7 linked regions of the Homo sapiens genome follow. The protein of the gene in region 1 interacts with the protein of each later gene in a biochemical or structural test. Each region holds a gene or a part of one and is shown in the gene's direction. Other genes may lie near its edges.

Region 1 (4,247 bases):
CCTATCTCTACTAAAAATACAAAATTAGCCGGGAATGGTGGTGCGCGCCTATAATCCCAGCTACTCGGGAGGCTGAGGCGTGAGAATCACTTGAACCTGGGAGGCAGAGGTTGCAGTGAGCTGAGATAGCGCCACTGCACTCCAGCCTGGGGGGCAGTGAGACTCCATCTCAAAAAAAAAAAAAAAAAAGAATAGAATAACCCTTGTTTAGGTGTTAACAAAATCCAGGCCAGACAAATCTAAACTTTAATCTCATACCCAGTTCCTAGATGAGTCCCTTCTCCAGCTCAGGTTCCGCCTAAGCCTCAGGGTTCCTTACTTGGTGGGCACCACCTGCTCCCTTCCCCACCTTTGTCCTCTTTTTCCTCTGCTGGCTCCTCCGGGGTTGGGTGTGTTCAGAGGCAGAGACAGGCTAAAGGTCTTTGGCTTTTAGGTTCTGTTGGTGGGTGAGTTCCAGATATAGCTTTCTCTTGTAGGATATTTCATTTATTTATCTATTAAAAATATTTATTTAGAACACACCATTCATGTGCCAGACCCTGTCCAGGCACTGGGGATAGGGTGATAAATGAGATCAACAAAAATACCTGCCCACATTAAGCTCCTGTTCTAGGGAAGACAGAAAGAAAATACACGTGTCCTTAGTATATTAGAAGATTCCAAGTACTGTAGAGAAAAATAAAGCAGGCTGGACTCGGTGGCTCATGCTTGTAATCCCAGCACTTTGGGAGGCTGAGGTGGGAGGATTACTTGAGCTCAGGAATTTGAGACCAGCCTGGGCAACATGGCAGATCCTGTCTCTCCCAAAAAAAAAAAAAAAATTTAGCTGGGTATGGTGGCGTGCATCTGTAGTCCCAGCCACTGGGGAGGCTGAGGAGGGAGAATTGCTTCAGCCTAGGAGGTGAAGGTTGCAGTAAACCGAGATCGTGCCATTGCACTCCAGCCTGGGTGACAGAGCCAGACCCTGTCTCAAATAAAACAAAAGGAAAGAAAGAAAATGAAAAAAAGAAAGAGATGGGGCAAGCAGGGGAGAGGGCTGGGGACACAGGGGAGGGTGCTGGGGATGCAGGGGAGGGTGCTGGGGACACAGGAGGGTGCTGGGGATGCGGGGGAGGGTGCTGGGGACACGGGAGGGGCTGGGGACATGGGAGGGGCTAGGGATGCAAGCTTTCCTGAGTTCCCACAGTTCTCTGCCCCTCTCCTGTCTCACGGGGTGTGGGCCACCTGTGGCTTGCGGTTGTTTCGCGCCAAGCTAATATCTTGTTCTTCCCAACAGAGAGGCCCGTTGAGGCTTCTCTGTCCTCCATGGGGAACAGCATTGGCCTAAACCTGCAGACACCATTGCAAAGGGAAGTCAGCTCAGGCAAACCCGCTGGTGAAGAAGAATTCCAGTGTGGGGACACAGAGACTGACATTTCTTGCCATGGGTGATTTAATTTTGGGCCTCAGTTTTTCATTCCCCCCTAAGAGTATGACGCAGCCGCATCCTTGCCAGGGCCGGAGGGAGGGTGGATGGACTTATAGGTGTTGCTTGTGGCTGGGTGACTTGCTTCTGCCAACGAGATTTTCACAGACACGGCACAAGCAGAAGCCTGGAATGTGTGGCACTGCCAGGCCTGCCCTCTTAGGCTCTTGATTTTCCCCACGAGATATGCGTGCCCCAGGGAACGGCGGCTCTGGCTGTGGAATGAGAGGCGTGTGGAGCAGGCATGGTTCCCACCCTCAGCCTAGAGTCAAGGCCAGACTAGATCAGCCTAAGCCCAGCCACGCCACGGGTGCAGCAGTGAAGAGCAAATGCCAACTGTCCATGACAGTGACTTTCAAAGGGGCGTGTCATGTGCCTCATCCCAGCAACAGGGAAGGCATTTCTCTATCAGTCAGTTGGTAAATGATTATTGACAATGTGTGGGAAGGTGGAGTTATTTGAGTAGATTTGGCCTCTATTCTCATGGAGCTTCCTTTCTAGAGGGGAAGGCAGATGATGGATGAATAAATATAAATGATTCTAATAGGTTGGTGCAGCAGTCATTAAAAGTAATGGCAAAAAAAAAAAAAAAAAAAAAAACGAGGAGCCGGTGCTGCAGTTCATTAATAGTAATGGCAAAAACTGCGATGACTTGTGCGCCAACCTAACCCAGTAATCACGGGTGTGCAAAATGTGGCGATGGGCAAGTTCCGAGTGCTAGGAGAGCATCTAGCTTCCCGGAGTCAGGAGACGGGGGTTGGCAACCTAACCAAGGTTAAGTCCAAGGGAGGGGGGTGGGCAGGGAGCGATATTTCAGTGGAGACTCCAAGGACGAATGGTATTTAGAGAGTAAACCCCGATAGAGAGGGTTTGTGTCTGGCACAGAGAAGAGCCTGTGCAAAAGCCAGCGGGGCGAGAGGACACCATGTGTTCATCCACCTGAGGGGCGACCAGCAGGCTGGAGCTCAGCGGGTTGAGAGGAGGATGCAGAGCCCGGGAAAGGCACCCTAGGCAGAGGGCACAGCAGGGCAAAGGCCTGGAGTCAGGCCTGAGCCTGTGTGGTTTGAGGAACGGATAGAGGCCTGTCCGGCAGGAAGGGAACAGCACAGGGGAGAGACCTTAGGCCAGAGCAGAGGGCAGGGCTGTGCTGGGCACTGTGGGCTGTGGATGGTGCTGGCATTTAAGAGGGGAGACCATAGACCAGGGCAGAGGGCAGGGCTGTGCCGGGCACTGTGGGCTGTGGATGGTGCTGGAATTTAAGAGGGGAGACCATAGACCGAAGTAGAGGGCAGGGCTGTGCTGGGCACTGTGGGCTGTGGATGGGAGCTGGCATTTAAGAGGGGAGACCATAAGCCAGGGCAGAGGGGTGGGGAGGGCTGGGCCAGGCACCAGAGTGGAGACCACAGGCCAGGGCAGAGGGCAGGGCTGTGAGGGCACTGTAGGCTGTGGATGGGAGCTGGCATTTAAGAGGGGAGTCCATAGACCAGGGCAGAGGGCAGGGCTGTGAGGGCACTGTAGGCTGTGGATGGGAGCTGGCATTTAAGAGGGGAGTCCATAGACCAGGGCAGAGGGCAGGGCCGTGCTGGGCACTTTGGGCTGTGGATGGGAGCTGGCATTTAAGAGGGGAGACCATAGACCAGGGTAGAGGGCAGGGCCGTGCTGGGCACTTTGGGCTGTGGATGGGAGCTGGCATTTATGCTCAAGTGATGGGAATATGTTAAAAGATTTTAAGGAGGGGAGTAACAGTTGGGATTAATGTGTATTCTGGGAATCTCAACAAAGTAAATTCATAGTTCGAATTTTCATAAGACTTCTGCACAGGCAGAGAGAAATAAGATCGCATCTACAGCTGTGTGGTGATTTTCTTTAAAAATACTACTAAGTTTTTAAACGTGATTTCAAATGGTGTGTTTCTGTTTCACATTGGACATAAGTAGATTGCAAGGCTAATGGAAAGTAGAAAAGTTAACTCATGAACATAAAAGAGACATCGATTTGAAAACAAAACATTTATTCATTTACTTCTGCTGCAGTTTTCTTGACTGCTGAATTTCGTAAGAAGGGATTGGTCAGGGAGGGTCTTGGGGCTGAAGACCTGGAGAGGAGCTGGTGCTATCGCTGTTCAAATCTGAAGGTGGTGGAGATGGAGCCTTGGGGAGGAGCCGGTGCTGCCTTTTAAGTCTATGAGAGTCGTTGAGCTGGAGGTCCAGGGAAGAGCTGGTGCTGCCACTGATGTCTTAGGTTGTGGAGCTGAAGACAGTGAAGGAGCTGGTTTGGCTGTTCTGTGAGGGTCGTGGAGCTGGAGATCCAGGTGGGAGAGGTGTTCTAGTTTGAGGGTCATGCAGATGGAGATCTGTGAGGAGCTGATGTTATTTTAATTGGTGGGTCGTAGAGCTGGAGACCAGGGAGGAACTGGTGTGGTTCTAGTTTGAGGGTTGTGGAGCTGGAGACACAGGGAGGAGCTGAGGTTCTAGTTTGATGGTTGTGCAGCTGAAGACTCGGGGAGGGGCTGAGGTTCTAGTTTGAGGGCCCTACAGCTGGAGATCCGGAGAGGAGCTGATGTTTTAGATTGAGGGTCGTGCAGCTGGAGAACCAGACAGGAGCTGATGTTATAGATTGAGCATTGTGCAGCTGAAGACTCGGGGATGAGCTGATGTTGTTCGCTTTGAGGGTCTTTCAGCTGAAGACTCGGGGAGGAGCTGATGTTCTAGATTGAGGGTCATGCAGCTAAAGACTTGGGGAGGAGCTGATCTTCTAGTTTGAGGGTCATGCAGCTGAAGAC
Region 2 (4,247 bases), on another chromosome or scaffold:
CTCAGCCTCCTTAGTAGCTGGGATTATAGGCGCCTGCCACTGCGCCTGGCTAATTTTTGTATTTTTAATAAAGATGGGGTTTCACCATCTTGGCCAGGCGGGTCTTGAACTCCTGACCGCGTGATCCACCCGCCTTGGCCTCCGAAAGTGCTGAGATTACAGGTGTGAGCCACTGCGCCCGGCCCCCAAGTAACATATATTAAATGAAAAAAATGTTTGTTTCTAATAGTCTGTTTCTATTTTTCTTCACAGTGGGAATGTAAGACGGACTTAGATATTGCATACAAATTTGGAAAAACTGTGGTGAGCTGTGAAGGCTATGAGTCCTCTGAAGACCAGTATGTACTAAGAGGTTCTTGTGGCTTGGAGTATAATTTAGATTATACAGAACTTGGCCTGCAGAAACTGAAGGAGTCTGGAAAGCAGCACGGCTTTGCCTCTTTCTCTGATTATTATTATAAGTGGTCCTCGGCGGATTCCTGTAACATGAGTGGATTGATTACCATTGTGGTACTCCTTGGGATCGCGTTTGTAGTCTATAAGCTGTTCCTGAGTGACGGGCAGTATTCTCCTCCACCGTACTCTGAGTATCCTCCATTTTCCCACCGTTACCAGAGATTCACCAACTCAGCAGGACCTCCTCCCCCAGGCTTTAAGTCTGAGTTCACAGGTATGTTTCCCTCGCAGTGGCCATAAATAGAGCGGGTGTGAGGTTAGTGCATCCTGTGCTTGGTTCTGAAATAGAAAATCGTTGCATTGGGAAACCAAAGGAGGTTTGTCTTCTCATTTTGTTTTTTACTTTCAACTTCTTTTACCTCTTCTGTTTGGCTCTCTCCCAAGGTATATTGTGGTTGCTATGTTAATGCCTGATTGGCCGGGCGCGGTGGCTCACGCCTGTAATCCCAGCACTTTGGGAGGCCGGGGTGGGCAGATCACTTGAGGTTGGGAGTTTGAGACCAGCCTGGCCAAGATGGTAAAACGCCGTTCTTACTAAAAATACAAAAATTAGCCGGGTGTTGTGGCGGGCACCTGTGATTCCAGCTGCTTGGGAGACTGAGGCATGAGAATCACTTGAACCCGGGAGGTGGAGGTTGCGGTGAGCCGAGATTGCGCCACTGCACTCCAGCCTGAGTGACAGAGCGAGACCCTGTCTCCAAAAAAAAAAAAAAAAAAAAAATGCCTGATTAAATTATAAATACTCTTAATCAGAGAAACTTGATCAACTTTGCTAATAATCATTTGCCCTGACTCCTGTCTCACACTATACATAAAAATTAATTCTTTAAGTATTATAAATCTCAACGTAAAAGGTAAAACAATTAAGTTTCCAGAATAAAACATAGGAGAATATTTGTTATGACCTTAGGATAGGGAAAGATTTCTTAAACAGAACATAAAAAGTACTAGCCATAAAAGAAAACATGGGTAAATTAGACTTTATTTAAATTAAGAACATCTAATCATCAAAAGGCACTATTAGGAGAGTGAAAAGGCAAGCTACAGACTGGGAAAAATTTACGAAACGTATTTCCGGCATATATATATATAAAATGTATTTCCGGTAGAACATAAAATGAACTCCTGTAAATCTGAGCAACAGGCAGACAGGCCCTCCAAAGAGGACTTGAATGCCCATTTTATAATAAGAGAAGACATCTACTTCACCAGTCCCCAGCCTTTTTGGCACCAGGGACCAGCTTTGTGGAAGACAATTTTTCCACGGACTAGGGGGGTTGGGGTGGGGTGGGGTGGGGAGAGAAGGTTTTGGGATGATTAAAGCATATTACATTTATTGTGTACTTTATTTATGTTGTTATTACATTGTAATATATAATGAAATAATTAACAACTCATGTAATGTAGAATCAGTGGGAGCCCTGAGCTTGTTTTCCTGCAACTGGATGGTCCCATCTGGGGGTGATGGGACACAGTGACAGATCATCAGGCATTAGATTCTCATAAGGAGCATGCAACCTAGATCCCTCGCATGTGCAGTTCACAGTAGGGTTTGTGCTCCTATGAGAATCTAATGCTGCTGCTGATCTGACAGGAGGCTGAGCTCAGGTAGTAATGCAAGTGATGGGGGAGTGGCTTTAAATAGAGATGAAGCTTCAGTCGCTTGCTTGCTGTTCACCTCCTGCTGTGTGGCTCAGTTCCTAACAGGCCGTGGAGCAGTACTGGGGTCCCAACCCATGATTTACATGTTCAACAGAAATAAGAAAAGGTGCTTAGCATCATTAGTCTCCTGAGAAATGCAGATGAAAACCACAGGGAGATTATTTTTAGCCACCAGATAACCACCATAATGGCTAACATTAAAAAGACAGAGTACCAAGTATGGGCAAGAATGTAGAGTGACTGGAACTTTCATACTTTGCCGGTAGGAGTTTAAATGGTAAAACAACCCAAACATGCATACCCAATTCTATTCCTATGTACATACCTGGGAGAAGTGAATGCATGGTGCACCAAGAAAGATGCACAGGAATGTTCATAGCAGTTTTATTTATAACTGCCAAAAAATGGAGGTGGAATATCCATAAACATTAGAATGGGACTGTGTAAATTTTTCACACGGTGGAAGACACATGAGTTAAGAAAAAAACTGATAATGCAATGGTAGGATTGACTCCCATAGACATAATGATGTGCCGGACACAGAATACATACTTTGTGATCCTGTTTAGAAAAAGTTCATGAATGGACAGAATTAAAATATGGTAAGAGAAGTTAAAGTAGTGCTGATCTCTGACATAGATGGGAATCTATTAGGAGTTGTCATGAGGGAGCCTTCTGGGGTGCCAGAAATGGTTTATTGGTGTGGGTGGTGGTTACATGGATAGGTACATATGTACAAATTTGTTGTGCCACACGTGTAAGATTAGCACACTTTCTTATATATATGTATACATCAGTTAAAACTTCCTCTGAGCAGAAGATACTTTTTAGGTCCCTTTGAGATCTGACTTCCCAACTGACACAAATAAATATCTGGCTGCCTCCCCTTGGATTCCTCGGTTAGAGACTGAGGCACAGCTCTCATCTGGAGCTCTTAGAGACTCCACTTAGAGTTTGTACTGCAGAGAGAAAGTAACCCTGAAAAGTGGGGTGATTTTCTAGTAGCTGATTGAGCAGGGCAGATGTCATTTTATAGCAAGACCCTCCCCAGTCCCAAAATCTATCCCTCTCCTCCCATATCTATGGGAAATGCTCTCCCTCATTATAAACCAGTATTTTACAAATACCTTTTTGAATACAACTTGTTAATAACTTGATGCCTGAGTATTATTAATAATTCAGTACAGATGAAATAATTGAAATGTTACATTATCTTTGCTTTTGTAGACTGTCATGTTTAAGTGAGGATACATAATAAATCATTTTTATTTTAAGGACCACAGAATACTGGCCATGGTGCAACTTCTGGTTTTGGCAGTGCTTTTACAGGACAACAAGGATATGAAAATTCAGGACCAGGGTTCTGGACAGGCTTGGGAACTGGTGGAATACTAGGATATTTGTTTGGCAGCAATAGGTAAGCTTTTTGCATTGATCTCACTTGCTCTTTAATTCAAGAGGCTTGTTTTGCTTACAATTTAACTGCATTTAGTTTTGCTAAGGAAAATAAATTGTGGTGACGTTAGCCTATTAAATAAGATTCTCTGGGAAGGGGGAAGGTACACTATATTTGTTTTGATCAGTATTGTGTATGTTATTTTCTTTCACTGTGTTTCTTCCTGTGTCACCTTCATATATATTATGAGATAAGAAAAAGACTGTTTAGTTGACATCTGAGAAAATAAGAAGGCAGGAAAGAAGACAGCATTTGGGGAACAGTCTGGTTTGGTAGGAGAATGATAAAAATAAGGCTGGAAAGAGCTTGGGGCCAGATTTTGGAATATGAAGTATTAATGGTAGTTTAAGTTTAGATTTTATTCGAGTGCAAATTCAGAAAGAGCATTGACTCCCTGTCACTTTTCCCCCATAGCAGTGACCATAATAATGGCAGAAATATGAAACGGTTTTTATTTCATGTTAACTCTGATATACCAGAACATTCAGGAAAAAATACTTGATAAAGATATTTTTTTCTGACAGTTTAGGAACAGGAAGGTATTTAAAAATTATAGCCACAAGAAAAAAATGCCTAACCTACTTTTATCCCTTTAAAGAGCGGCAACACCCTTCTCAGACTCGTGGTACTACCCGTCCTATCCTCCCTCCTACCCTGGCACGTGGAATAGGGC
Region 3 (4,247 bases), on another chromosome or scaffold:
CAAAATAATTATGCTGAGTGAAAAAAAGAAGAAAAAGGACACACTGTGATTCCACTGCTGTAATATCTAGGAAATGCAGCTGAGCAGGCCCATGGTCACCACGATTGGGGGCTGCAGGATGGGGAGATGGATTACCAGGGGATCCGAGGAAACTTTTGGGAATGATGGGCATGTTCCTTATCTTGATTGAGGTGATGTGATGATCCTACAGGATATATTTTTGTCAAAATTCACCAAATCATGCACTTGATATGCAGTTTATGTCAATTATACTATATCAAAGCTGTTTTTAAAATTAGCTTTTGAGTGTAAAGGATATGAACTATTATCAATATGCAAGAATTCAGGGACTATTGTTTCTAGGAGCCCTTCCTGAGAAATCTACTAGAGGATACAAGTCACACAACTAAAATGACTACAAAGACTTCAGCATAAATATATAGTTACTTGTAGAGAACTAAGACGAAATGAGGGTTAAAAGGCTGGGCCCAGGGCAGGCACAGTGGCTCACACCTGTAATCCCAGCACTTTGGGAGGCTGAGGCAGGCGGATCACCTGAGCTCAGGAGTTCAAGACCAGCCTGGCCAACATGGCAAAGCCCCATGATGTGGTTTGGCTGTGTCCCCACCCAAATCTCATTTTGAATGCCCATGTGTTGTAGGGGGTAACCAGTGGGAGTTGAGTCATGGGAGGAGGTCTTTTCCATGCTGTTCTCTTGATAGTGAATAAGTCTCACAAGATCTGATGGTTTTATGAAGGGGAGTTCACCTGCACAGGCTCTCTCTCCCTTTTTGCTGCCATCCATGTGAGATGTCACTTGCTCCTCCCTTGCCTTCTGCCATGATTGTGAGGCCTCCCCAGCTACATGGAGCTGTAAGTCCATTAAACCTCTCTTTTTTTTGTAAACTGCCCAGTCTCAGGTATGTCTTTATCAGCAGCGTGAAAATGGACTAACACACCCCGACGCTACTAAAAATACAAAAATTAGCCAGGCGTGGTGGCACACACCTGCAGTCCCAGCTACACGGGAGGCTGAGGCAGGAGAATCACTTGAACCTGGGAGGTGGAGGTTGCAGTGAGTCAAAATCGCGCCTCTGCACTCCATCCTGGGCAACAGAGCCAGACTCTGTCTCAAAAAAAAAAAAAAGGCAGTGGCTCACACCTATAATCCCAGTACTTTGGGAGTCTGAGGTGGGAGGATCACTTGAGCCTACGAAGTTTGAGGCTGCAGTGAACCATGATCTTACCAGCCTGCACTCTAGCCTGGGTGACAGTGAGACCCTGTCTCAATTTTTAAAAAAAAAAATTGTTAATAATAAATAAAGAGGAGAATCAGTCATCTTTGGAAAGTGATAGAACCAGTTCAGAAAGAATCAAGCGTTTATCCAGCCTTTCCTTTTTGACCTTGTATTAGTCTGTTTTCTCGCTGCTGGCAAAGACATACCCAAGACTGAGCAATTTACAAAGGAAAGAGGATGGAGAACTCACAGTTCCACGTAGCTGGGGAAACCTCACAGTCATGGCAGAAGGCAAGGAGGAACAAGTCACAGCTTACGTGGATGGCAGCAGGCAAAAGAGAGAGCTTGTGCAGAAAAACTCCCATTTTTAAAATCGTCAGATCTAGCGAGACTTATTCACTATCATGAGAACAGCATGGGAAAGACTTGCCCCTGTGATACAATTACCTCCTACCAGGTCCCTCCCACAACACGTGGGAATTCAAGATGAGATTTGAGTAGGGACACAGCCAAACCATATCAGACCTCTATCCCTGGGTAACTGAATAGTTAATGAGAAGAAGTGTCCCTATCTGGAGCATTCCATGGAATAAATGACAAAGAAAGGATGGAATTAGAGTATCACCATTTTACAAGCCCCAGTGAATTAAGAGAGGCCTGAGTTATTGACAGCTGTTAATATAAGAGACAATCTAACGTGCCTCCTGATGAGAGAACGCACCAGCTCTAGTCTTGCCAAAGGGATCACACCTGAGTCTGTCCAGTCTTGGCTCCAGCTGACAGTTTTCAGGAATTCAGAGGAACATATTGAACTGCATATGAAGCAGCAAAACCCAGACCGAGAGACTAGGCTCTCTTCAGCAGAAAAATTGTAAGGAAAAAAATCAGAGGAGGAATCTGCAAAGTAGGAGATGTAAAAAACATCCAAAAAAATGTTTAATGGACAAGACTAAACTATAGTATCTAGGGGTGCACATTTGGGTGATAAAATGGGGGGAAAATGGGTTAGAAGTTAGGGCAGTGGTTACTTATAGTGGAAGAGGGAGCTGTGATTAGGAAGGGCATAATGACAGGGCTTTTCAGGCAGGTGGCAGAATTCTTGTTTCTTGATCTATTACTTTATAATAAAAGATTTTTCTTAAAAAAAAGCTCCAATGTACCATTCTTTCATGTGTTTAGAAAATGTCCTGTTTCTTAAACTTGTGGGAGTTCTTAATTTCTACTTTTAGCGCACACTGCAGAAAAATGCACACACTGTTGGGATCCTTGAGGGAGAATTCTGAGCAGTGGACCCCATGATGAGTGCTTCATGTCAGCCTTCACACACACTCCAGTCCTGAGAAGCGGAGGGGAGAGGGACAGCAGGCTTGGGTCTGCAGAAGCAGTGTTCTCTTGCAAGGCAGAGTCACCATGTGTCCCATCTTTACAGATTGGCTGCAATGCCGTCAGCTGGGCCCCTGCTGTTGTACCTGGAAGCCTCATAGACCACCCATCGGGGCAGAAACCCAATTACATCAAGAGGTTTGCATCAGGTGGCTGTGACAACCTCATCAAGCTGTGGAAGTAAGTAGGGATGTGTGGCCTTCTCTTTGAGGGGACACTTCTACCCTTTACCCTACTCACCATGACTCAGCCACACTCACAAGAAACAAGGTCACCTTTCTTTCTCCCTCCTGCCAGTAAAATACTGTTTTCAATCTGTTGGAGGACATCCTTGAAAAACAACACAACACCTGTTCACCTAATTCCCAACTGTTGGAGCTGACTCTTTGGCTGTGGAAGCAGAGCATTTTCTGGAGGGTTTTTTTTACAGCTGGGGTGAAGGGAATAAAATGCCACAAACTCCATGAATGAAAGAAGAAAGATGGAATCGCTTCTCCACCCCAGGCAGAGCCTGTTGGGTTGGGGAGGAGTTGAGGTGTGGGAACGGCCCCCTGCTGATTCTCTTTCTGTCCCCACTGTTAGGGAGGAGGAGGACGGCCAGTGGAAGGAGGAGCAGAAGCTAGAAGCGCACAGTGACTGGGTTCGAGATGTGGCCTGGGCCCCCTCCATCGGCCTGCCCACCAGCACCATCGCCAGCTGCTCCCAGGTCAGCCCAGGGCCATGAGTATCCCTTGTCATTTAGTCTCGAGTCAGGCCCATCAGCTCTTAGTCTCCTTAGCAGAAAGTCCTCTGGGAAGGTAAAGGGAGAGCAACAGGCACCTTTGGCCCAGAGCACAGGGAGTCAGGTCATTGTGTGGGGAAGTCTTGGTCAGAAGCCACAAGTGGCCTGCCTCCACTGAGATGAGACAGCTACAACAGAACCGGCACCAAGAAGGAGGCGGATTCGGGATGAATTTTCCCTTCTGACCCATGTGAGACTAGGGCGCCGAGGTGCCCAGGTGCAGTTCCAAGTGTTCCCAAGCAACGATGGGGTTGGATGGGAATTATACGCTTAGCTACCAAGCCACCCTTCCCAGACAGCAAGGACGGCCAAGGGTGAGCCTTCAGTTATACACCACCACCCTAGAGGGAGCCAGCTAGGCCTTTCACATCATGGGAACCTGTTTGGTTTGGTTCTAAACTTGGGATTTTTGTGCTTTTTTACTTGTGCCTTCTCATTCTTGGAGCTTGGTTTTTGGAGAGCTCTGCCCATTCAGTTGAGAAGGTATAGACGGCCAGTGGAAGTGACTTGGCAGGCATGAGGAAAACCCCAGAGAAAATCTGAGTTAGCAATGCAGACAGAGTCCACCTCCGAAACCCGGATGAGAAAAGGAATCCGGGAGACTCTTAACCAGTGTGAAGAGACAGAAACAAAGCTGTGGACGCCCCAGAGGTCCTCGGCTCCCCTTTGAATCCCCCACCCTGTTCCTGCAGAGAGGTGCCGGGTGGCTCTAGACTGGGAGGACATCACATCACAAACGCAGGAGTCTTGACTCCACCTCCTGACTCTATCCTGTTTCTTCCTAGGATGGTCGTGTGTTCATTTGGACCTGTGATGATGCCTCAAGCAATACGTGGTCCCCTAAA
Region 4 (4,247 bases), on another chromosome or scaffold:
ATGCCTGGCTCCCTCTCCTATATTTTTTAATGGCATAAGTACTGCATGTTCAATGTAGAACTTGTAGAAATACAGAGAAGCAAAAAATAAATAAAAATCATCCATAATCTTACCACTCAAAGATACTGCATTTTTTTAAAAAGAGAACTTTTAGATAGGGCATTGTAGATGGTATTTTCTACTACTGCAAGATGACAAAATGTGATCTGTGTTTCATATGCTTTATACACAGATACATATCAACACAAGATAGATTGAAGGACTGAATGGTGAAAAACTATGAGAATATTAGAAGAAATTATAGGAAAATATTTGTATACCTTCTGGATGGAAGTCTTTTTTTTCTTTTTTGTAAAATATATGTAACAGGCCGGGCACGGTGTCTCACACCTGTAATCCCAGCACTTTGGGAGGCCAAGGTGGGCAGATCACTTGAGGTCAGTAGTTCGAGACCAGCCTGGCCAACATGGTGAAACCCCATGTCTACTAAAAATACAAAAATTAGCTGAGTGTGGTGGTGCACACCTGTAATCCCAGCTACTCTGGAGGCTGAGGCAGGAGAATCGCTTGAACCCGGGAGGCGGAGGTTGCAGTGAGCCAAGATTGCACCATTGTACTCCAGCCTGGGCGACAGAGTGAGACTCCATCTCAAAAATAAATAAATTAATTAAATAAAATATATTTAGCATAAAATTTACCATCTTAACCATTTTTACATGTACAGTTGACTCATGTTAAATACATTGTTATACAATCAATCTCTGTAACTCTTTTTGTCTTAACAAGACTGAAACTCTGTACCCATTAAACAATAAACTCCCAATTTTGCCTTTCCTCCCAGGGTAGGAACTTTTTTTTTTTTTTTTTTTTTTTTGAGACGAAGCGTTGCTCTTGTTGCCCAGGCTGGAGTGCAGTGGCATAATCTTTGCTCACTGCAACCTCTGTCTCCTGGGTTCAAGCGATTCTCCTGCCTCAGCCTCCCAAGTAGCTGGGATTACAGGTGTGTGCCACCACGCCTGGCTAATTTTTTGTATTTTTTAGTAGAGACGGGGTTTCACCACGTTGGCCAGGCTGGTCTCGGACTCCTGACGTCAGGTGATCCGCCCACCTCAGCCTCCTAAAGTGCTGGGATTACGGGCATGAGCCACCGCGCCTGGCCATTACTTTTGTTTTTTAAAAAATAATTATTATTTTTAAAAATTGGGTTGGGTGGCCGGGCGCGGTGGCTCATGCCCGTAATCCCAGCACTTTGGGAGGCCGAGGCGGGTGGATCACGAGGTCAGGAGATCGAGACCATCCAGGCTAACACGGTGAAACCCCGTATCTACTAAAAATACAAAAAAAAAAAAAAAAAAAAAAAAGCCAGGTGTGGTGGCGGGCACCTGTAGTTCAAGCTACTCAGGAGGCTGAGGCAGGAGAATGGCGTGAACCCAGGAGATGGAGCCTGCAGTAAGCTGAGATCACGCCACTGCACTCCAGCCTGGGCGACAGAGTGAGACTCTGTCTAAAAAAAAATCGGGTTGGGTATCCCTAATCTGAAAATCTTGAAATTCAAAATGCTCCAAGATCTAAAACTTTGAGTGCCAACATAATGCTCAAAGGAAATGCTCATTGAAGCATTTTGGATTTGGGGTTTCTGAATTAGGGATGCGCAAATAGTTGTGCAAAGAAATAATGCAGATATTACAAAAATCCAAAAGTGTCTGAAATCTGTAGCGCTTCTTGTCGTAAGCATTTCAGATAAGGGTTACTCAACCTATACCATGAAAGCCAGTGATGTAGTGGAAAGAACCTGGCACTAGGAGATAAGACATTTTGCTTACTTTGATTTTTACTCCAATTTCCGACACTCACTCTAGTAACTTGCTGTTTGGACAAGTCCTTTAACTTCTCTGGGTTACCAGTTCTTTATATCAACAGAGTTAATGTTCAGTCACTAAGGTACTTTCCAACACAGAAAAATGTTTCCTTTTTGCATGATAGCACTCATTATTTGCTTATTAAATTGAACTAAAAGCTAATGAAAATTTTTGTGAATCAGTAAACCCAGAAGATTCTTTGGAGGTACATTTCTTGCATATCTCTGAACAGGCAGCAGAAGGGGCTCCTGCTTGGTTAGAGAACTTGCTTATTGCCCTGACCTTAAGGGATTAAACTATAAATCTATATATCTTCATAGTCTTGAGGTTATTTTTCAGAAGTTCTAGAAGGGAAATGCTGAAGCAGTTTCCAATTAGATTCTTAGTATCGCTTTGTCAGTGCCTTAGCAGGTAGATTGTTCTTACCATCATGTCCTCTACCCATCTCTATGCATATTGGCTGCTAAACCAGCTACCAGGATAATGACTCTTCTGCATACAGCAGAAGGAAATTAAATTGACAGCCAAGTTAAAATAGCCTGCCAAATAAGGGATTTTTAGTTATTAACCTTACCCATTACTGTCTCAAAGAAGATATAATGGAAATTACTTTTCTAATTTGTGGCTGTCTCCTTTTTTGAACTAAAGATCAGTGCAAATGGAAATGTGAGTCTCTGAACCCTGTTATTTTAGCAGTCCTGCATCTGCCTTATTTCTCTAACAACGTGTCACAGCACACACACACTCCCCTTCCCCTCTTTCTAAAAATAATGACCATGCCACTGCCAGGTTCTTCAGTTTTAGAAATGTGCTTTTTCACACTGTTCTTGTAAGATGTCCTAGACAAGCTTTTCTCATTAAAAAGATAAAAATCTCACTTAACAAGTACTCCATCATTGGCAGAGAACAAACAGGCTTCTTTCAGGTTGACTCTTTCACTAGCTTTTTTTTACACGAGTCAGATTGTTTGAGTATTGGTCTCCAACTTAGGGTTAAAACATTAAAACCTTAGGAGTTCTTCTGGGGAAGAAGGACTTTCTAGGCACAAAATAGTGGAAGAAATGACAAAGAATAAAAACATATTTGAATAAATAAAAAAATCATATACAAAATTATGATAAATTAGGAACATAGGTTTGGAACAACCCTTTAAAGGGTTAAAGGGTTGGCCTGGCAGGGTGCCTTACGCCTGTAATCCCAGCGCTTTGGGAGGCTGAGGCAGGTGGATCACCTGAGATCGGGAGTTTGAGACCAGCCTGACCAACATGGAGAAATCCTGTCTCTACTAAAAATACAAAATTAGCCGGGCTTGGTGGCACATGCCTGTAATCCCAGCTACTCGGGAAATTGCTTGAACCTGGGAGGTGGAGATTGTGGTGAACCAAGATCGTGCCATTGCACTCCAGCCTGGGCAACAAGAGCAAAACTCCATCTCATAGATAGATAGATAGATAAATAGATAGATAGATAGATAGATACATAGATAGATAGATAAAGGGTTAAAGGGTTAAAACCATTTGTGTGTAAAGAGCTCATAAGAATGCATGAGACAGGGCCAAGAGCAGTGGCTCACACCTGTAATCCCAGCACTTTGAGAGGCTGAGGCAGGCGATGGAGCCCAGGAATTCGAGACCAGCCTGGCCAACAGGATGAAACCCTGTCTCTACTAAAAGTATAAAAATTAGCCAGGCATGGTGACGCATGCCTGTAATCCCAGCTATTGGGGAGGTTGAGGCAGGAGAATCATTTTAGCCCAGGAGGCAGAGGTTGCAGTGAGCCAAGATCACACCACTGCACTCCAGCCTGGGCCACAGAGCAAGACGCCGTTTCAAAAAAAAAAAGAAAAGAAAAAAATTAGTGGTCCCAGCTACTAGGGAAGCTGAAGTGGGAGGCTAGGAGGATGCTTGAGCCCAGGAGGTCGAGGCTGAGGCTGCAGTGAACCATAATTGCACCAGTGCACTCTAGCCTGGGCAGCAGAGCAAGACCTTGTCTCAAAAAAGAAAAAAAAAACAAGAATGCATGAGAGAAACAATAAAGATTTGAGTGTACAGTTCGCAGAAGGGCAAGTAAAGCTGGCTACTAGATACAAGGGAGGGAGTTCAACCTAATTAATAATAGGGTCTTATTAGTTATAAAGAATTAAACATAATTTTTTGCCTACCAGAGTGTCAGAGATTTAAAAACTATCCAGTGCCTCAGAAAGTAGAATGAGTTGGCACCTTTATAGTGTTGGTGGGAGTGTAATTGGTAACAGCTTCAAAAAGTCACCTTATGTCTCAAAGTAATTTTTTTTTTTTTTTTTTTTTTTTTTGAGACAAGGTCTCACTCTGGCTCCTAGGCTAGAGTGCAGTGGCATGATCTTGGTTCACTGAAACTTCACTTTCTGGG
Region 5 (4,247 bases), on another chromosome or scaffold:
GTCTTTTTTTTTTTTTTTTTTTTTGAGACAGATTTCGCCCTGTCACCCAGGCTGGAGTGCAGTGATGCAATCTTGGCTCACTGCAACCTCCGCTCCCTGGGTTTAAATGATTCTCCTCCCTTGGCCTCCCGAGTAGCTGGGATTACAGGCATGCACCACCATGCCCGGCTAATTTTTGTATTTTTAGTAGAGACGGGGCTTCACCATGTTGGCCAGGCTGGTCTTGAACTCCTGACCTCAGGTGATCTGCCTGCCTCAGTCTCCCAAAGTGCTGGGATTACAGGCATGAGTCACCGTGCCCGGCCTCCTCTCTCTTCTTAGCCACTGTTTTCCCCCGTAAGCCTGAAGCAGTTCCTGGCACTTGTTCCCATGGGGAAGCGTCTGTGTAAGGGTATGCTTCACCAGCACTGCCAAGGAAGTAGACTTTTCACTTTCTCTGGATTTTTCTCTGCAACACCCTCTGATCCCATTGCCCCCAGAATAGTAGGAATTTTGAGTGATACCTAGATAGGAAAGCTCTTAGGATTAATGAAGAAACTGAGATTTTCTTGGTGGGAGTTTGTGCTTTTAAAGGGAGTTGTTGCAATTCAATGGAACTCTGTAATAACCACTGAAACTGTTACACATTAGGCTTACTGACCCTATCTCCTATAACCCATGAAATAAAGACCTGATAGTCACATAGTTGTTTGCTATTTGGGAGGATCCTAAAAGTACAGCCTGAACAGTGACCCAAACCACAGCTGGCCTTGCCCATGCTGATGTGAGGAAGGAATGGGTGGGGGCAACTAAGAAATTGGGGGACAGAGTTCTCTGTGCTAGGTATCCTAGGACAAGCCACCCAGCCACACAGAGACCCCCCGCTTCCCCCCCACAGAACAGTTCTGGATGATAAAATGCCTGCCTGGAATGGAGAATCAGATGAGAAGATGTTTGCAAAGGGGTTTGAGATCAGTTAGCGGGTGGTGATGACAATGTTGATACCGTGGGTGTGTGACTGCCAGGAGCTGTGAAGCAGAGGGTGGAGTGTGCGGTGGTCAAAGCCTGGTTCTGGGATCTCTAGCTTTCCAGGGGCTTAGGCTCCGCCTTAGCAGAAAAGAAGGAAAGGAAATTGAGAAGGAAGTCAGGTGTCCCCTGCCCCTCACACTTGGGGATGGCTGACTTGGAGGACATGAGATGGGGGAAATCTGAGTGAGGGCAGAGAAGAGAAATGTGGAGGCTGCTCACAGGGAGGCTAGGGAGCATATGGCATATCCAGCCTGGGGAGTGGCACCACTGGGGGAAAGGGTGCGTGTGACAGTGGGGAAGGAGTGGTGATAACAGATGTGAGCTTGCTGTGTCCACTAAAAAGGTCACGGCTATTTTTAGGAAGTAGGTGACAAGGCATGTTCCTGTAGAACTGCTTATTACTGAGAACCCACTGTTGGCCTCGCCCTGCGTGGTGTGCTTAAAAGGAGAGACCGCCCCCACTCACCCTAGAGTCATCCACCTGGTGTCCCTGAGACATGGGACACTGGATGAGGACCAGGTTTGGAGGATGAAGAAGATCATGTATTTGGTTTTGGACATGTTGTGTTTGAGGTGTCTTTGAGATACCAAATAAGCTGGTGGGTCTGGGGCTCAGGAGGCGTCTTGGCTAGACAGACATTTGTCTAGGTTGTGTTTGTATTTGAAGTCATGGGCACAGCGAGATTGAAGAACTCACCTCGAACAGCTGAGTAAAGGAAGATGAGCCTATAAAGGACCCAGAAAAAGAGCGACCTGAGAGGGGCCCAGAAAGCCAGGACAGAGTTGTATCCCAGGGGCCAGGGTGAGTCTGCTTCGTGGGATGGAGTGGTCAGCTTGGCATCGCGGCTGTGGTGAGTGATATGGAGGAGATGTGGCTGCCTTCACTGCTTTGGTGGGATGATGTGAGCAGAAGCGAGGTTGGAGTGAATGGGTGAGGAGTAGCAGGACGTGAGGATCTGATGATAGACAGGCTCTGAAATGTTGGCTTTGAAGGCGAAGAGGACGTCGTTGAGGGAGTGTTTGATTCTGTTGCCTCGATTTACCCTCCTGCTCCCTTTCCAATCCCAGAAGGGAACATGTGGATGGCCTGCCACTGACATCCCTCCCCACGGCGCTCCGTGCTCAGGCAGACCTAGGTACCTGCAAGGGTTTGCTTCTTTCACAAAGTGGATTCATTCTCATGAATGAATGAATGAGTGAATGAAGCATGTTGCCCAGGTTGGTCTCAAAGCCCTGGCCTCAAGCAATCCCCCCGCCCCGCCTCAGCCTCCCAAAGTGCTGGGATTACAGGAGTGAACCACTGCACCTGGCTGGTATTAAATTTTCTTTGTGGCCAACTGCATGATAAATATTAACATGTTTCATGGGCGTGAAAGGAGAAAATAGGTCCTCTGCGGGACGCTGACTTTAGATAGATCTCTTAACTTCAGTTACCCTTATATCCCTGCTTGCCTGGCTGTCAGATTCTGAGAGGTATAACAAAAACTCTCACTGTAGTTTTTTAAAGTCCAGCTCTACTTATATTTGTGGGAGTTCTAGCCTTTTGAGTTTGGCTTTCGTGTTTCATGTATATAGGCTTATCAAGCTGATCTTCCTACCTGTCATTTGCTGGTTATTTAATGCCTTTGGTCTTTGGTCTTAAATTCCATATTGTCTGTGTTTTAGGAGAATACATGGCCAAGGATCTGGGAGAATCTCTTTTCTTTACAGTCTTAAAATTAATAAATAAGTGCATTTTATAAGATAATAAGTGAAAGGCTCAGAAATTTAAATGCAGGCATCAGAGGACATTCAAGCCATGCCCCTTTAGCTTCTGTTCAGGCTCACATGGAGCGGTTAGTAATCAGGTCTCACTGATGACCATGAGCTCCCTGTCCTTGGCTGTCCTAATGGTTCCCATGATAGCCAGATTTTTAGGAGGGGTGGATAAAATGAGATTTGCGTGCAAACTCCTGGGACGTTGCCTGGGAACCTCTTCTCTCACTTTGCAATTCCTGCCCCTTCCTGTAGGTCCAAGAAGCGGACTGCTCTGCCTCTCATTTACGCATTTCCTTCCTCATTCCAGACAGCAAGATGAGTTTTTGACAGAGTAGCCAGTACAAACACTTCTCAGGGCCAGAAGTCAGAAAGACGCGGGCCCCAAGTCATAAGCTCATCTCTGTGCTTGTGTTTTAAGCCACATAAACTGTCTCAGCGGGCTGGACTAGGCTATGCCTTGTTGTACCCTGAGATCCTAGTGAGTAGTTCTCCAAGTACTGTGTTTACAGATAAAGGCAAATGCCAGAGAGAAATGGCTGGAAAAACCCCTTGGCTTGCTAAGGCAGGATTATCGAAAAGTCTTCAACATATATGTTTTTAAATTTTACATATTTTTTCATTTTTATTTATTTTGAGACCAGACTAATTTTTGTATTTTTGGTAGAGATGGGGTTTTGCCATGTTGCCCAGGCTGGTCTCAAACTCCTGGGCTCAAGTAATCTGCCCACCTCAGCTTCCCAAAGTGCTGGGATTACGGACATGAGCCACTGCACCCAGCCAACCACTGTGCCCAGCCTATTTTTACTATTAATATTTCCACCTCTGTTTTTCTTTGCATTTATTTGGTATGTCTTTGCCCAACCCTTAGTTTTAAATATTTCTTTCTCACTTAAAAAAGTTTATCTTGGCTGGGCGCGGTAGCTCACGCCTGTAATCCCAGCACTTTAGGAGGCCGAGGCGGGCAGATCACGAGGTCAGGAGATAGAGACCATCCTGGCTAACACGGTGAAATCCCGCCTCTACTAAAAATATAAAAAATTATCCAGGCGTGGTAGCGGGCGCCTATAGTCCCAGCTACTCGGGAGGCTGAGGCAGGAGAATGGCATGAACCCGGGAGGCGGAGCTTGCAGTGGAGCCGAGATCGTGCCACTGCACTCCAGCCTGGACGACAGATCAAGACTTGGTCTCAAAAAAAAAAAAAAAAAAAGTTTATCTTGAAGATGGAATCTTCGTAAATAAAATTTGTTTCTCTTATAATCAGAACGTGGTTGAGGGTGGATGGAGGTTGACAGAAGGCAATGATAACAGCAACAAACCTAATTGCATGGTTTCTGTCTTTGGTAGAGGAATTCTGACTGTTGACATACCAGATATACTTGATTTTATTCTTTGCATCTTGCTTATTACTTATTATACTTGCATGCATTCCTTTCCTGATTTTTGCTGTTGGGTTAAGTTTCTCATCGTCATCTTCCCCACGC
Region 6 (4,247 bases), on another chromosome or scaffold:
GAAACCCTGTCTCTACTAAAAATACAAAAGTAAGCTGGGCGTGGTGGTGTGCGCCTGTAGTCCCAGCTGCTCGGGAGGCTGAGGCAGGAGAATCATTTGAGAATCACCACTGCACTCTAGCCTGGGCAACAGAGTGAGACTTTGTCTCAAAAAAAAAAAAAAAAAAAAAGACATGGATGCAGTGATTGCATTTTGTTAGACCACTTTTAGTCAGATAAACAAGAAGAAAGTTCTTGGTTAGAATTGTATATTTTTAAATTTATAAACAGCCTTCCTTTTCTTTAGCAGTTATGTGAATTTGACTCAACCTTACTTGTTAATTCTCCAGACTTGCCAACTTGGTATCATGGATGGTATTTTATATAATATTAACTGAGCGTATCTGTGGTTATTTTTCCAAAATGTAAAAAGGATCTTCTCTCTTCCCTGCTTTAAAACGTTCACTAGTTTCACTTTTCCTAGAGCAGTGCTTTTCAAACTGTGTACCTAGGCTGATACTAGCTAACATTTACTGAGTACTTAACATGTGACACTATTCCAGGCTTTGACATCTGTTACTGGTTTTATTCTCAAAACAAACCAATGAAGTAGGTATTAGTATCTTAACATTTTTATGAGAATTTCATTTTGCTTTGTAATATTTAATACAAAAAAGCTTTTTTTGTTTTTGTTTTTGTTTTTTGAGATGGAGTCCACACTGTCACCCGGGCTGCAGTGCAGTAGCATGATCTCGGCTCACTGCAACCTCCACCTCCCAGGTTCAAGCAATTCTCCTGCCTCAGCCTCCTGAGTAGCTGGGATTACAGGTGCCCACCATCACGCTTGGCTAATTTTTTGTATTTTTAGTAGAGACGGGGTTTCATTATGTTGGCCAGGCTGGTCTCGAACTCCTGACCTTGTTATCTGCCCGCCTTGGCATCCTAAAGTGCTGGGATTACAGCCGTGAGCCACCGCGCCCGGCCCTAAAAAGGTTTTTAAATGGATGACCTAGCATCAAGAAAAATGGAATCTAAGAAGATTTCTATCATATTTGTCTTTTGTGACTTTTTATACTCCAAGGCATAGCATACCATGTACTAGAAGTGAAAATTTCTTTGTATGAAATTAGGGACAAAAGACATACTCAAGAACTTTTTTAAAAAAATAATTAGATTTCGTAGACCTAAAATTATTCTTTTAAATTGCTGTGCAAGTTTCTAAACCTCTTACTCTCGATTCCTGTATTTACCTCATTTTAGATGGATACTTGAATGCAAAGGGCACTGAGTAGCACTATTCTCCCTCGTACTTGATGTTTTAAACATTTTGTTTCCCGTCCCTAAAATGAGTGCACATCCCTGTTTTCTGTTTGGTGCATTTCTACTTTTCCTTCTTCATGCCTCAAATACTCTTTCCCTGGGAAGCCTGTCTTAACTGGAGGCCATCTCCAGCAGAGCTACTCCATCTGTGTGCTTCCTTAGCACCGTATTCACATCTTTCTTAGTTCTTGGTATGTAGTTGGTGTACTTACAGACGGTGAGCTTCTTGAGGGCAGGGGCCTGATTTTAAGTCTTCTCTATATCCGTTATAGCACCTAGCAGGTATGAGTAAATGTTGAATGAATGGATGAGTGAACAGATAGGCTGTTTCAAATTACAATGTTTGGTGTAATCTAGAATCTAGCCTTACCATTAGAAACTATAGGCTACATCATTTAAAGCCTCCCAGGGCAACTAGTGGCAACAACCTAACCCCTGCTCTAAGAACATGCTTCAAGTCCAGGCTGGTATGGTATAGTATTACTGTAGTAGTAAATGATTGAAATGCCCGCTAGGCAGAAGTTTTATCATTTAATGATAATGCACAGTAGGCAGAAGTTTAGTGCCTAATGTTCTGTCTTATTTATTTCAGGAATTGTTGGATAAATATTTAATAGCCAATGCAACTAATCCAGAGAGTAAGGTCTTCTATCTGAAAATGAAGGGTGATTACTTCCGGTACCTTGCTGAAGTTGCGTGTGGTGATGATCGAAAACGTAAGTTTATTTGTTATATGGGCAAAAGTAGAATATAAAAAAAAGAAATGGGGATAAATGGGACACTATGACAGTATACGTAGTCTTCAGGCTCTTTGTGACTTAATAATTGAATGTATGTCAAGAAAATTAGTATTACCTTATGTTCTCAAAAATGAAAATTGGATTATAAATTTACATCACATGCTCTTTAAAAAAATTAAGCTCATCTGTGAACTCTGTAATCTCATATGGTATTATTTAAAACAGGATTAATCTTTTATGCTTTTTAGAATTTTGGTTCACCATATTTTTAGCTCCAGAGTTTTTTGTGTAAACTTTATGAGTGATTCTGCATTTCACATGGCCTTTCTATTATGCCTTAAAACTTCAGATCACTGGAAATTACATACAGAACGTGGAAACAGGTTGTTGTGCTTTTGCTGTTTGTCATATTCATTATCGTCTATTTTAAGGGGTCATAACATTGACTGCTAATTACATATAATCAGATTTCTGAGGAGAGGTGAAATGAGTGTGTTATTGCTGGTGTATAACTTGCTCCAACTTCACAGTAAGTTTGAATGACTCATGGTTAGGTTTTACTTGAGAAGGTTGAATATACAGGAACTGTTGATTAATCAAGTAGTGGTCATAAAAATAGATTTTAGTATTAAATACCTTTTTTTTTTAACCTAGACTATCATAGAAAACATGGATATGAGAAAAAGTGACCGAATTGCCTAACTTGATAATAAAAAAGTGAAGTGAATTTATTTGCAGTGAATGTCTCTTGGGATACTGGCAGCTGAATATAAGATAGATCTCATTAAATTTAGTGTATGTGCTTGCTACCAGATTTATCAAGTTCTAGGTATTAGAAGTGTCAGTCCTTATTTTTTCCAGTAAGTTTGTTGTTTTGTTCTTAATTTTGCCCTGTCTACAAAGATATACCCCTACAAATAGTTACTATGATCTGAAAATGAGAGTTTTGCCATCCTAAATATCAGTGTAACTGAATATATAAAGAGAACTTGTACCTGAGAAACTGTTATACCTTGCTATAACAAAATCTATATACTAAACTTACTTATTCTGTTACTGATGTGTAATTTCTGTTGCCATGAAGGTAAGCAGAATTGGACATGATACGGGCACGGAACTGTACATTTAAGTATCAGAAAGCCAAAGAGAAGTATTTGGGAGATTGAGACATAGCTGTAGCTTTAACCTGATTTAACCCTTAGGAGCTCATTGGCACTTTCAGGTCTCACACGTAGTCCTGTGTACATTCTGATAGGCTGCGATTCATAGATAGGCTGTCTTTATAGCCTAATTGCTGAGACACTGGTGCTTCCTAATTTGCCAAGCTGCAAGAACTTCTTATTGCATGTGGGCTGTACCAGTCAGGGATTAGATCAATAAATGTGCCATTTCAGAGGAAAGAAAATGAACATAATTCAGGTCATAAAGGGATAGCTTAATTCTCTTACGTCAGTATCTCTAAAGCTGTAATAGGCCAGTGGCCTCATACAGAAAACTACCCTTTTCAAAACATGGGTATAATCAGATTAGTGTTGGTAATACTGAACATTTTTTGAAGGGGGAGTAACATTTTAATTAGGCTAGTAATCAAACTCTGGTCAGAGCAGATTTTGTCCTATTTATTGAAACTTTTATATTGCCTTTCAAATAATACCACTTGATACTAAGAATCAGTATTTCTGCAAATCAGAAAAATAGAGATTTTGGTGTTGATGATCTTTGTAAAGTTTACATTATTTAGGGAAAGGGTATTCCAGTCAAATTATTATTATTATTATTAATTTTGAATGGAGTTTTGCTCTTGTTGCCCAGGTTGAAGTGCAATGGCGCGATCTTGGCTCACCGTAAGCTCCGCCTCCCGGGTTCAAGTGAGGCTTGTGCCTAGCCTCCCAAGTAGCTGGGATTACAGGCATGCATCACCACTCCCATCTAATTTTTGTATTATTAGTAGAGACGGGGTTTCTCCATGTTGGTAAGGCTGGTCTTGTACCTCCAACCTCAGGTGATCTGCCTGCCTCAGCCTCCCAAAGTGTTAGGATTACAGGCGTGAGCCACTGTAAATTATTCCAGTCAAATTATTTTTAATTGCTGCATTTCCAAGTAATAGAATTAAAAGACATAAAATAAGAAAATAGTTTTAGCCTAGGTATGGAAAAAAGTCTGATTTACTATAATATCTCATGTTTTTTTTCCATTAAGCTGTTTATAT
Region 7 (4,247 bases), on another chromosome or scaffold:
TGGATTTTTAGGTGGTGGGAATTTAAGCATAAATTCTCATAACTTTCTTGGGGTCAATTTAATATTAATAAGTGTAGTAAGTAATAATACCCAGCTTGAGACCTCATGTACTTGTTGCATTTGGATTTAAAGCTCATTTCCTATAGAAGAGCTGTAGAAATCAGTCATGTAGTTTCATAAACTCCTTCATGCTTGTTAATAATTTTCAAGAATCTTAAAATAAATTACAGGAATATTGTTATGAAGTAGTAGAAGCAGTATGGTATAGGGGAGAAAGTGATTGTAGTTGGGATCTGAGGATAGTCTTTACTTTGCTATTAACTAGCTGTGTGACCTTGGGCAAGTTGCTTATCTCTGCTTCAGTTCCATAAACTAAGAATTACAGAGCTGAACCGGATCTTGGAAGCAATCTAGTACAAACCTCTCATTTTACAGATGAGGAAGCAGATAATTTGCACAGGCTTTCACTGTAAGACAGTTGGGCCCAAAATTCAGTTTTCTGACTCTCAGGTTGGTTTTTTTTTTCCATTATACTTTACAGCCTCTTTTCATCTGTAAAATGAGAGCATTGGATTAGAGGCTCTCAAAGGTCTCTTCCAGCTCAAAAATATTGTCATTCCTGTGACATTAGTCGTAATATAATTTATTAGGGGAAAGTTTGTAGCTTTTATTTATTGGTGAAAGAAATGTTTCTTGAAGAGGCAGTATAACCTTTGCAAGGTTATATTTTGTTTTTTTAAGAGAATATCATCAGGCGAGGTGCTATGTCTCAGGCCTGTAATCCCAGCTTTGGGAGACCAAGGCAAGAGGATTGCTTGAGTCCAGGAGTTTGAGACTAGCCTGATCCTGTCTCAAAAAAAAAAAAAAGTTAGCTGGGTATGGTGGCATATGTCGGTAGTCCTAGCTACTGGGGAGGCTGAGGTGGGAGGATCCCACCTTGATCCCAGCAGTTCAAGACTGCAGTTGATGCAGTGAGCTATGATCATGCCACTGCACTCCAGCCTGGGCAACACAGTGACACCCTGTCTCAAAAAAGAAAAAAGAAAACATCTTCATTAATACCAAAGGGTATTTAAGTTTATGAGCATGGTAAGTAGTGTGATAGGTAGTCTTGTTTTTTGTAAAACACTTATTAATATATTAATAATATAAATTGCGTAAATAACAGTGTGATACCCGGAAGTGAAGTAAGTAGGTGATTGTTCCTCAGAAAATATTGCTGGAGTTTATTTTATCTGGGACCCCTGTGTCTGCCCCTAGTTAAGTGCCTGTGTTGTTTAGTGTCTCACAGGATTGTCTGTTTCCATAGCATCTGCATCATGCTACTTTTATTATAGTTTTATTTATATTGTCTACTAGACAGAAAGGTCTTGAATTCAGAGACTATATTTTGTTCATTTTCGTATTTTCAGTGCACAGGAGGACATCCTCTACAGAGTTGGCACTCAACTAAAAGTTTTGTCAAAGGACTGTTTCACATACATCATCTCTCTATATATCATGGTATGCACATATTTCAGACCCAGGAAGATGCTTATTTTAGTAATTCTTAAGTGAACTATATTTTAGAGGGTGATATGGATAACAGTAACAGTAATAGCTAAAGTTTATTGTGTTCGCACATGTTAATTCTTATATCTCATAACTCTGAGTTACATACAGTTGTTATTCCCATCTTCAGATGAGAAAACTGAAGCACAGAGAAGTAAAGTGACTTACCAGTGTGACCTAGAGTAGTACATGATGGGGATTTGAACCAAGTTGGTGTATTTTAATCACTAGGATATATTGCCTAAAATATGAAAATTTGGTTTTTAGTATTTTAGTAGTTTTTCCTAAGCAGATTTTAACTTACTAATCAGACTTCCAGGCTTATTCATTTTACTTCTAAACTTTTGTTAACTTTTTTTTGCATGAGTTTTTATACACGTGTGAAGATAAGATTTAAAAAAATACAAAAACCCCAACCAAACAACCCAATTTAGAAAGCTGTACCAGCTGTGCAAATCCTACACTTCATTTTTTTAAGATAAGTTTTGTCCATTCATGGAAAATGTTAGAGATACATCAATGAAAAATTTTATTTCCATGTTAGATAATCTAATTTGTAATTCCATTTATCTTGATATTTTGGCCTCATAAACCCACTGGAGCCATAACAAGTAAATACTAGAATTTGAACAAAAAACTTCCCACTGTCAGTATCGGAGCAGTCTATTTATTGTGGAGGCTTTATAACCTGATGGACAAGGCTTTAAACTAAATTATAATGCTTTAGTGGCAGATCTTTGACTCTGTTAATAGTATTCAGTATGGGCAAGGGGAAGAGGATGTGCAGTCTAGCTAATCTGTAAAAAAGTATTTTAAAAAAATACTTAGTTTTAATTCTTTTATTGCTAACAACAACAACAACAACAACAATAACAAAACCTTTGGTAGCATGTATTATATAGCAAACCTAATTGAGAGGCAGGATTTGAATGGATTGATAGGAATTTATCAGTCATGGAGTGGAAAGATATGCAGAGCAGAGCAGATCCAGGTGGTAGGTTGTCAAACTTGAATTAAATTTTTCCAATGTGGCTTCATCATTAGGTCTGAAATTTAATGAATTTCAAGAAGGCAATTTAACCTGTATTTAAATAAAAGTGATTATATTCTACATAGATTCATTAGCCAAATATAAGTATTTTGGGGGGATGACTTAAAATATTTTTTCCTCTTCATCTATGTGGATTGTTAAGAATTGGTTATACTCATAAATTTGTGCTTTTCCTTGAAAACTAATTAGCTGGAGTAAATAAACTACTAGGTTTAAATTCTTGCTGTTAATATGATAAGTTGTGTGACTTCATGATTCCCCACTGGACACTTAGGTAAGTGCTTCCTATCTGAGGATGAATGTAGTTCCTCTGGTGAAGGTCAGAGGGGTTTGTGTGAGGCTAATCATACTCATCCTGTCTCCTAAGACCAGAGACATGTTTTACTTTTTTCCTTTTTTGATACTGTATATTTGCCTCATAAAAAATATAAAATTTCCCTTTTCCTTGCCGATTTCTTTTAAACATCTGTGTAAATATGTAGTTTAGTTCAACTTTGTATACTACTCTGTTACTTATTTCATTTACTTAAAGATACTTATTTCATTTACTTAAAGATACACATGGCTGGGCGCGGTGGCTCACGCCTGTAATCCCAGCACTTTGGGAGGCTGAGGCGGGCGGATCACGAGGTCAGGAGATCGAGACCATCCTGGCTAACACGGTGAAACCCTGTCTCTACTAAAAATACAAAAAAATTAGCTGGGCGTGGTGGTGGGCGCCTGTAGTCCCAGCTACTCGGGAGGCTGAGGCGGGAGAATGGTGTGAACCTGGGAGGCAGAGCTTGCAGTGAGCTGAGATGGCGCCACTGCACTCCAGCCTGGGCGACAGAGCAAGACTCCGTCTCAAAAAAAAAAAAAAAAAAAAAAGATACACATATTTATTAATGCTGGACACTATTCCCGGCATTTGTAAATAGTAATTCATTTGCTTCTCCTAACAATCACATGAAGTCCTGTTATTATCCCGACTTTATAGATGAGGAAATTGAGGCATAGAGAAGTTAAGTAATGTATCCAAGGGCCAGGCACAGTGGCTCATGCCTGTAATCCCGGCATTTAGGGAGGCTGAGGTGGGCAGATGGCTTGAGCGCAGGAGTTCGAGACCAGCCTGGACAACATGGTGAAACCCTGTCTCTACAAAAATATACAAAAATTAGCCGGGCATTGTGGTGCACGCCTGTAGTTGCAGCTAGTTGGGAGGCTGAGGTGGATCGCCTGAGCCCAGGAGGTTGAGGCTGCAGTGAGCCGTGATTACGCCACTACACTCCAGCCAGGGCAACAGAGTGAGGCCTTGTCTAAAAAAAAAAAAGGAATGTACCCAGGCACACATAGAGAATATTTAGCAGAGCCAGGATTCAGACTGGGCTGAGTACATGCTCTTAACAGTTACACTATTCTGTCAATGTTATTTCCTTGAATGGATGCACTATAATTGGTTAACTACTCTTCTTTAGGTAGGATGTTAGTCATGAATCCTTTGGTTACACGTAATAACAACACGACTTTGTTAAGTTAAAAAATGAGTGTATTGGTTCACATACTGGGTATTGTATGTGGAGGGTGATGGAATGGCTTTGGAAACAGCTAGATCCAAGGTTGCAAGTAATGTCATTGGGTTTCTTTGTCTCCTTTCTGGGTTTTTCTA

What was found.
Region 2: the proteins of PDCD6 (region 1) and SARAF form a complex in vitro, tested with the Homo sapiens proteins (one study listed by BioGRID).
Region 3: the proteins of PDCD6 (region 1) and SEC13 form a complex in vitro, tested with the Homo sapiens proteins (one study listed by BioGRID).
Region 4: the proteins of PDCD6 (region 1) and KLHL12 form a complex in vitro, tested with the Homo sapiens proteins (2 studies listed by BioGRID).
Region 5: the proteins of PDCD6 (region 1) and ANXA11 form a complex in vitro, tested with the Homo sapiens proteins (one study listed by BioGRID).
Region 6: the proteins of PDCD6 (region 1) and YWHAQ form a complex in vitro, tested with the Homo sapiens proteins (one large-scale study listed by BioGRID).
Region 7: the proteins of PDCD6 (region 1) and TLK1 form a complex in vitro, tested with the Homo sapiens proteins (one large-scale study listed by BioGRID).

What each region holds. Positions count from the first base shown.
Region 1 is NC_000005.10:277,742-281,988, forward strand, and holds part of PDCD6 (programmed cell death protein 6), read left to right. Parts: intron 1-4,247. UniProt on the Homo sapiens protein: Calcium sensor that plays a key role in processes such as endoplasmic reticulum (ER)-Golgi vesicular transport, endosomal biogenesis or membrane repair.
Region 2 is NC_000008.11:30,066,065-30,070,311, reverse strand, and holds part of SARAF (store-operated calcium entry-associated regulatory factor isoform 1 precursor), read left to right. Parts: intron 1-252; coding exon 253-670; intron 671-3,393; coding exon 3,394-3,535; intron 3,536-4,172; coding exon 4,173-4,247. UniProt on the Homo sapiens protein: Negative regulator of store-operated Ca(2+) entry (SOCE) involved in protecting cells from Ca(2+) overfilling.
Region 3 is NC_000003.12:10,304,113-10,308,359, reverse strand, and holds part of SEC13 (protein SEC13 homolog), read left to right. Parts: intron 1-2,667; coding exon 2,668-2,801; intron 2,802-3,203; coding exon 3,204-3,327; intron 3,328-4,187; coding exon 4,188-4,247. UniProt on the Homo sapiens protein: Functions as a component of the nuclear pore complex (NPC) and the COPII coat. At the endoplasmic reticulum, SEC13 is involved in the biogenesis of COPII-coated vesicles.
Region 4 is NC_000001.11:202,903,083-202,907,329, reverse strand, and holds part of KLHL12 (kelch-like protein 12), read left to right. Parts: intron 1-4,247. UniProt on the Homo sapiens protein: Substrate-specific adapter of a BCR (BTB-CUL3-RBX1) E3 ubiquitin ligase complex that acts as a negative regulator of Wnt signaling pathway and ER-Golgi transport.
Region 5 is NC_000010.11:80,198,822-80,203,068, reverse strand, and holds part of ANXA11 (annexin A11), read left to right. Parts: intron 1-1,675; exon of another isoform or gene 1,676-1,810; intron 1,811-4,247. UniProt on the Homo sapiens protein: Binds specifically to calcyclin in a calcium-dependent manner. Required for midbody formation and completion of the terminal phase of cytokinesis.
Region 6 is NC_000002.12:9,589,159-9,593,405, reverse strand, and holds part of YWHAQ (14-3-3 protein theta), read left to right. Parts: intron 1-1,890; coding exon 1,891-2,014; intron 2,015-4,247. UniProt on the Homo sapiens protein: Adapter protein implicated in the regulation of a large spectrum of both general and specialized signaling pathways. Binds to a large number of partners, usually by recognition of a phosphoserine or phosphothreonine motif.
Region 7 is NC_000002.12:171,150,693-171,154,939, reverse strand, and holds part of TLK1 (serine/threonine-protein kinase tousled-like 1), read left to right. Parts: intron 1-4,247. UniProt on the Homo sapiens protein: Rapidly and transiently inhibited by phosphorylation following the generation of DNA double-stranded breaks during S-phase. This is cell cycle checkpoint and ATM-pathway dependent and appears to regulate processes involved in chromatin assembly.